Homo sapiens: one gene and its partner. The protein of the gene in region 2 interacts with the protein of the main gene of each other region in a pairwise test. Each region holds a gene or a part of one and is shown on either strand. Other genes may lie near its edges.

What was found. The genes of interacting proteins can lie anywhere in the genome.
Region 1: the proteins of SUCLG1 (region 2) and WDR36 interact in a two-hybrid assay, tested with the Homo sapiens proteins (one large-scale study listed by BioGRID).

The regions. Positions count from the first base shown.
Region 1 is NC_000005.10:111,112,848-111,116,347, reverse strand, and holds part of WDR36 (WD repeat-containing protein 36), read right to left. Parts: intron 3,275-3,500; coding exon 3,195-3,274; intron 1-3,194. UniProt on the Homo sapiens protein: Part of the small subunit (SSU) processome, first precursor of the small eukaryotic ribosomal subunit.
Region 2 is NC_000002.12:84,452,781-84,456,280, forward strand, and holds part of SUCLG1 (succinate--CoA ligase [ADP/GDP-forming] subunit alpha, mitochondrial precursor), read right to left. Parts: intron 1-3,500. UniProt on the Homo sapiens protein: Succinyl-CoA synthetase functions in the citric acid cycle (TCA), coupling the hydrolysis of succinyl-CoA to the synthesis of either ATP or GTP and thus represents the only step of substrate-level phosphorylation in the TCA.

The sequences.
Region 1 (3,500 bases), on a different chromosome or scaffold from region 2:
CTCCTCAGGAAGTAGGGGTGGGGTGAGACAGAACAAATGAAAAATTCTATTAAGATTATTTAATTTTATATATTTCTCACCCCTCAAAGAACTCAATCTGGCTGGGCACCGTGGCTCATGGCTGTAATCCCAGCACTTTGGGAGGCTGAGGTGGGTGGATCACTTGAGGTCAGGAGTTTGAGATCAGCCTGGCCACATGGTGAAACCCCAGCTCCATTAAAAATACAAAAAAAAAAAATTAGCCAGGCATGGTGGCACACGCCTGTGGTCCCAGCTGCTCGGGAAGCTGAGGCAGGAGAATTGCTTGAACCTGGGAGACGGTGGTTGCACTGAGCCGAGATCGTACCACTGTACTCTAGCCTGGGCGACAGAGCAAGACTTGGTCTCAGAAAAAAAAAATAAGAAAGAATTCAATCTGAATTTCTATTAGATCAAAAACAACCAGACATAAAAGGTGGTGGTAGTGGCAGAGGAATGATAATTTTAGATAAAAAATTTCAACTTTGCTCCTCTGAAAATTTTACAAACATAAAAAATGTTTCACCACTTTAAAAAAACTTTACAGGAAACTTTAATACCCATGCAATTTGTTTCAGATAGGCACAATTCCAGATGGATATACCTGTATGTTAATACACTCAAGGGTTTACTCATAGATAGCTTCACTTTCCAGGCTATGTAATTTGTTTTCATTATTCAAATTATTTAATTGAAAGAAGAACTAGGAATTTCCAAAGGTTGTCATACTAATTATGTTTTTTTTTTCCAAGCAAATCAGTTCATACTTAAAACAAGACACAGTCTGAGCAAAGATGATAACATAAGTGTTAAGAAAGCTATTTCTTTCTCCTGTGCTGATTTTGCGCTCTGTCATTTATAAACTAAGTCACCTTGGGCAAATCACTTAATTTCTCTAATAGCCTCCACTTCCTCATTTTTGAAATGGGACTAATAACAGTAATAGTACCTACAACTTGTTAGGATATGAAAAATAAAAGCATAAACAGTGCCTAGCAGCACATTGTAAATCTTAGCTTAGTTGCAATTAAGCAGCAGCAGTTGTTGGATAGTTATTCAAGCTCTCTCATTTGGTCCACTTCAAATTTTAACCAAAACTTTTTTCTTTAATAAAAATATACTTTTCTTCAATCAATGTACATTTTATTACATTTTCTTTTAACAATTCGATGTGGTCACTTCTTGCTCTTGTGCTACACCCAGCTTCATGCCTCTCTATTCACTTAAAATTGCCTGTTCACCTAAAAATAAAGATACTAGAGCTGAAAATCTATCAGATTTGAATCTGTTCAACTTCTTACTGATATAAGAAATTCAGCAAAAGGCTAATGCTGAGTCAAAGGTTAGTGGCTTTGAATGCTACTTTCAGATCCTAATTTTTTCATTCCAAAGACGAATTTACCACTTATAATACATTGCCAATTTACTACTACTGAATAATCTATCTCTCTCACTAATATAAACTAAAACTATTAAACAGGAAAATGAAAAAGGCACTATGCCAACTCTACTATTTATACAACTTTCTTATTTTAAAGCAATTCAAATTATATAACATTAACTTTTAGAAAATAGCAACAGCCCAAGAAGTGACAGACCACTAATATTTCTAATAGTGTCTTTAACAAAATGTTTTTTTAATTGAAGAAATACCAACTTTAAGTGAACTTTCTGAAGCCTGAGGAGGATACAGTCAATAAATTCGATTTTGCTTCACTCTATTTTAAGTGAAAGAGACAAACCTGTGGACAAAGGTCCCTGATTATTAGAGCTGGACCCACTAGTGACAATCGTTAGCTGTGCTTACTACAAATCCAGTGTATATGCAAGATGGGTAGGTATGCCTCAGGCCTGTTTCGAACTCGAAGGGAACTGAGGACATCAGGGTTTTTCCTTCCTAAAGGTCAAACTGTTTTCATGTATGAGCTTATCCAATTCCTGAGTAGGAAGAGGAAGTGAACAGAGCTTAATTTGGGAATATTTTAGATTAAAAAGTACCACCTTCCTTCTCATTTTTCTCACCTATCTTTCTCTAATGGTATGTTACTGTTAAATTAGATGTTTTGCTATTCCCACAATTCTTCCTTTCTTCATACTCATCTAAGCAATCCTATGTTAAATGAGATGATTTTAAATGGTATCTATACCTACTTAATTTTTAACAACAAAGCCGACACATTCTGTATGTCTCCTCTGTTCATACCACTTTCTCTTTAAAGCCCTGGATTAGCAGCAAATTTCAACCCATGAAACAGATTTCTGAACATTTGTTACGTTTTAACCAAATCCGAAGACACACATTTTCACCACTTTAAGATATAGTTAGAATGTCCCCTCCAAAACTCATGTTTAAACTTAATCCCCAATGTGATGGTATTGAGAGGGAGTGCCTTTAAGAGGTGATTGGATCATGAGGACTCTGTCCTCATTAATGGATTAACCCATTCATGGATTAAGGGATTATCATGAAAGGGAAACTGGTGGCTTTATAAGAAGAGAAAGACAGACTCAAGCTATTACATTATCACGCTCAGTCCCCTTACTCTGTGATTCTCCATACCACCTTGGGACTCTTCAGAGTCTCCACCAGCAAGAAGGCTCTCACCAGATATGGCCCTTTGACCTGGGGCTTCTCAATCCCCCAAAGTGTAAGAAATAAACTCCTTTTCTTTAGAAATAACCAAGTTTCAATATTCTGTTATAAGCAACAGAAAATGCACTAAGACTATCTAAAATGCCTTCTTTTAAGAATTATGTCAGAGAAGCAGAAGAGACATACAAAAAGGAAAAGTTAGGGGGTTTGACCTTTTAACTAAATTCAGCATGAACTAAAAAAACTCAAAAGTTTGCCATCCTTAAGTCTGAGCTTTATTTTGGAGTATCAAAAAGGTCAAATGAGCTTTCTTAAGGTTTAGGCATCTCGCTTCTGTATCTCAATTTTGCAGGATGAGAAAACCTAAGAGAGATTTCATTTTTCTATTATGTTTCATGACACTACTACCTGCTGTTTAGTTATCAAAAACACTCCAAGGATACAATATAGTCATGTCAGAAAAATCTCCAAATATAGTCACATTGAAAAAGCATATAACCCATTAACTATCGGTAAAAGTCACATGTGAAAAAAATAACTTAGAAATCTTATAGAGGTTAGGGAATTAGAAATATAAACTTACCACCCAGAAGGAAGGTCCCAAGTCCTAATAGAGCAATCCATCGCAGCACTTATTAACCAACGACCATCAGGACTAAAAGCCTTTAAATTAAAAAAAAAAAATATATATATATATATATTATTTATATATAAATATATATGAATATATTTGTATGTATGTGTGTATGTATATATAGTTAACACCTTAAAGAATGTAATAAATGAAAAGATAATGCAGGCTTCATAAAAAAATTAATTTGACTAACATTCAGGCTGCCTTATTTTATATAAAAGAAAATACCACTTCCTAAATACCACTGATTTGGAA
Region 2 (3,500 bases):
GGTATATGGTCAGTGCCTTACACACAGTAGGTCTATGGGAAACATTTCACTGAATTCCAGGACAAGAAACAGGGTCTCCAAAAGAAACACTTCTACCAAGCTAAACACCATAAGGTTCGTCTCTTTTTCGGTGAGTTGGAAAAAGTCAATCTTGAACTCCCACGTATCAGCAAAGAGGGAAAAGAACCCTATATCTATTTTTGTACATATAAAGATCATAGGTTTCCCTAAAATTCATATAGAGACTGCATGGAAGTTCGGCCCTAAAATGCTTCTGGCGGTCCCCAAAGCTACATTAATCTAGTACAAACGCCATGCTGACATTTTTTTAAATAAATAAAACCCAAAAGCAATAATACAAATTGAATCTTTACCTACATGAAAAAAGCAAGCATTCAGACAGAGTGAAACACACCATAGGCAGAGTTAAAGGCAATGACAGACCAGGGGAGTGTTTTCCTAACATTTAACAGACAAGGAATTAACGTGAGCAACATGAAGAGCCAACAAAAAGTGGAGCCCAAAGCCTAAGAGAAAAACTGATAAAGGCCATGAACAAGAAACACAATGGATGACAAACTGCAAATCCATATATGATGAGATGCCTAGCTTTACTAATAAGAAGAAAATAAGTATTATTATTATTTTTTTTGAGACGTTGTTTTACTCTGCAGCCCAGGCTGGAGTGCAGTGGCACGATCCCGGCTCACTGCAACCTCCACCTCTCGGGTTCAAGCAATTCTCCTGCCTCAGCCTCCTGAGTATCTGGGACTATAGGCCCACATCACTACACCCAGCTAATTTTTTTGTACTTTTAGTAGAGACGGGGTTTCACCATGTTGGCCAGGCTGGTCTCAAACTCCTGACCTCAAGTGATCCGCCTGCCTTGGCCTCCCAAAGTGCTGGGATTACAGGCAGGAGCCACCATGCCCAGCCGAAAATAAGTATTTTAAATTAAATATTAGAGCAGGAAAGGTGAGGTTGGCCACCAGGAAAAATTTCTGATGGCGAATGCTGTAGTTGCCACATCCTAGGCCACCTCCTTCTTTCCAGATTCTTAGAAATTGTCCAGCTTAACCTTGGGACTGCGTCCCAGGAGCAGCTGAGAACATCATCGCAGGAATCAGACAGGCCTGGTCTTGAGTTTATGCTCTGCCTTCCAGCAGCCATGTAACCCAGAGCATACCTTTTGATCTCCCTTAGCCTTAGTCTTCCCATCTAGAAGTGGAATAACAGCTGCCCCTGGGAGGCTGTGATATTAATATGAAATTACTCCTTAAATTGGCACCAGGTAGCACAGTCTCTGGTACACTCCCAAAACTGGGTTTACAACCCTACATGAACACAAAGGCAAATCTATCCCTAAAAAGAGAGAAAAAATAGTTCATATTTTAAAATCAAATAAGTCTAGCCAAAAATGTTTTCTACATGTCCTTGTGTACATCTTATATGTTTATTTATAAACATACTAATCCATGTCTGCATATAATGTGCAGTATGCACAAATATACCTCTAAGTTTTTAACATATAATACATTTGTAAAGGCGCAGCCCTCACTGTAAAACACGGACAATAATAGTATCTCCTTCATAGGCTGATGTGAGAATTAAATGAGTTAGTAATATATAAAGCATTTAAAACAGATACAGCAAGTGTTATATCCCTAAGAGCTTTTTATTAGCGTTATTATTACCGATGCAGAATGAGCAGACCAAACTGCTTTGAGATGTTGACTGTGACAGGCTATCTGTCAGGTGCTAGGGATTCACAGGTGAACAAGACAGGCTCAGGCCCTACCCACATGAAGTTTCCTGCCCTGTAAAAGAGCTAAACATTGCACAAAAAAAAACAAAACTACCAACAGTACAAACTGTAATAAAGACAATGAAGGAAAGAGGCTGAGTAATCTGAGAGAGATGTGTTTTCAACAGGGGTGATAGATTTGTACCTGTCAGCCACATACTGGTCCTCTTTACCACAGATAGTAACACATCATTTATAAAATGGCTGGTGGGATGAATGATGCAATCTATGGTCAAAGAGCACCTGCCCAGGAGAGACTCAAACCATGGGCCTTGTATGACCAGTACCATGCTCCTAACCAATAACCCAAGGCTCTATTCATGAAATACTCAATACTCCTTCAACTCACCTCTCAAACTGTGTCCCTGGTAAACATTTATTCGTGCACGTACTCATGAATTTAACAAATGTACACTTATTAACCATATGTATTATGCATATGTAAGACACAGGCTACTGCAGTCTACACCTACAGGACCTTATAATACAGCAGAGTAGCTAGCAGCCACTTACCCCTAAACTCCAAACAACCCACTATTCAAATGTTAAATTATATATTCATTTAATATTGACTTACGAGTGAAGTTTAATAAGCTGTAAGTACCATATTTCATCAAATATAAAACACCATTGATTTTTAAGAAGTACTATTAATTACTGGTAAAAAAGAAAAAATGAGGCGGGCGGATCACCTGAGGTCAGGAGTTTGAGACCAGCCTGACCAACATGGAGAAACCCCGTCTCTACTAAAAATACAAAATTAGCCGGACATGGTGGCACATGCCTGTAATCCCAGCTAGTCGGGAGGCTGAGGCAGGAGAATGGCTTGAGCCCAGGAGGCAGAGGATGCGGTGAGCTGAGATTGTGCCATTGCACTCCAGCCTGAGCAATAAGAGCAAAACTCTGTCTCAAAAAAAACATATATATCAGTAATAAGACACAACCTAATGTAAGAAATGTTATAATGTAAAAAAATGTGGGTCTATCACGCCTGTAATCCCAGCACTTTGGGAGGCTGAGGTGGGCGGATCACAATGTCAGGAGATCGAGACCATCCTGGCTAACACAGTGAAACCCCATCTCTACTAAAAATACAAAAAAATTAGCCAGGTGTGGTGGCGGGTGCCTGTAGTCCCAGCTACTGGGGAGGCTGAGGCAGGAGAACGGCTTGAACCTGGGAGGCGGAGCTTGCAGTGAGCAGAGATCACGCCACTGCACTCCAGCCTGGGCGACAGAGCAAGACTCCGTCTCAAAACAAAAAAAAAAAAAAAAAATGTGGGTCTATGGTATGCCAGTCCCCTGATGAAATGAAATTGTTGCCCTGTACTTAAATTATTTTTAATATTCCCAATTACATTTCTATGGAGAAACAAATTTGATGTCAGAAAATCAAATCACTTTCTCATGGCTACACTGGTACATCTGAATCAAGGCTATTTTGTATTTCTGAAATAAAGATTTGGTTATTACATGCAATGGCAACAGATGCTAATATCCACAACATCACTGTTGAGGATCTCATTTTCCAAACTACACTTTAAATGCATCTCTGATTCGAAAAACAGGCCTACGCACTTGGCAAACACGGGGAAAAGGAAGGCAACACCTTTGAGCAGGATAGTCACCTTCTCAACACATCACTAAGACTGCCAAAAAAAAATCAGAGCTTCGAAAAAAGCTTAAGTTATCACATGGT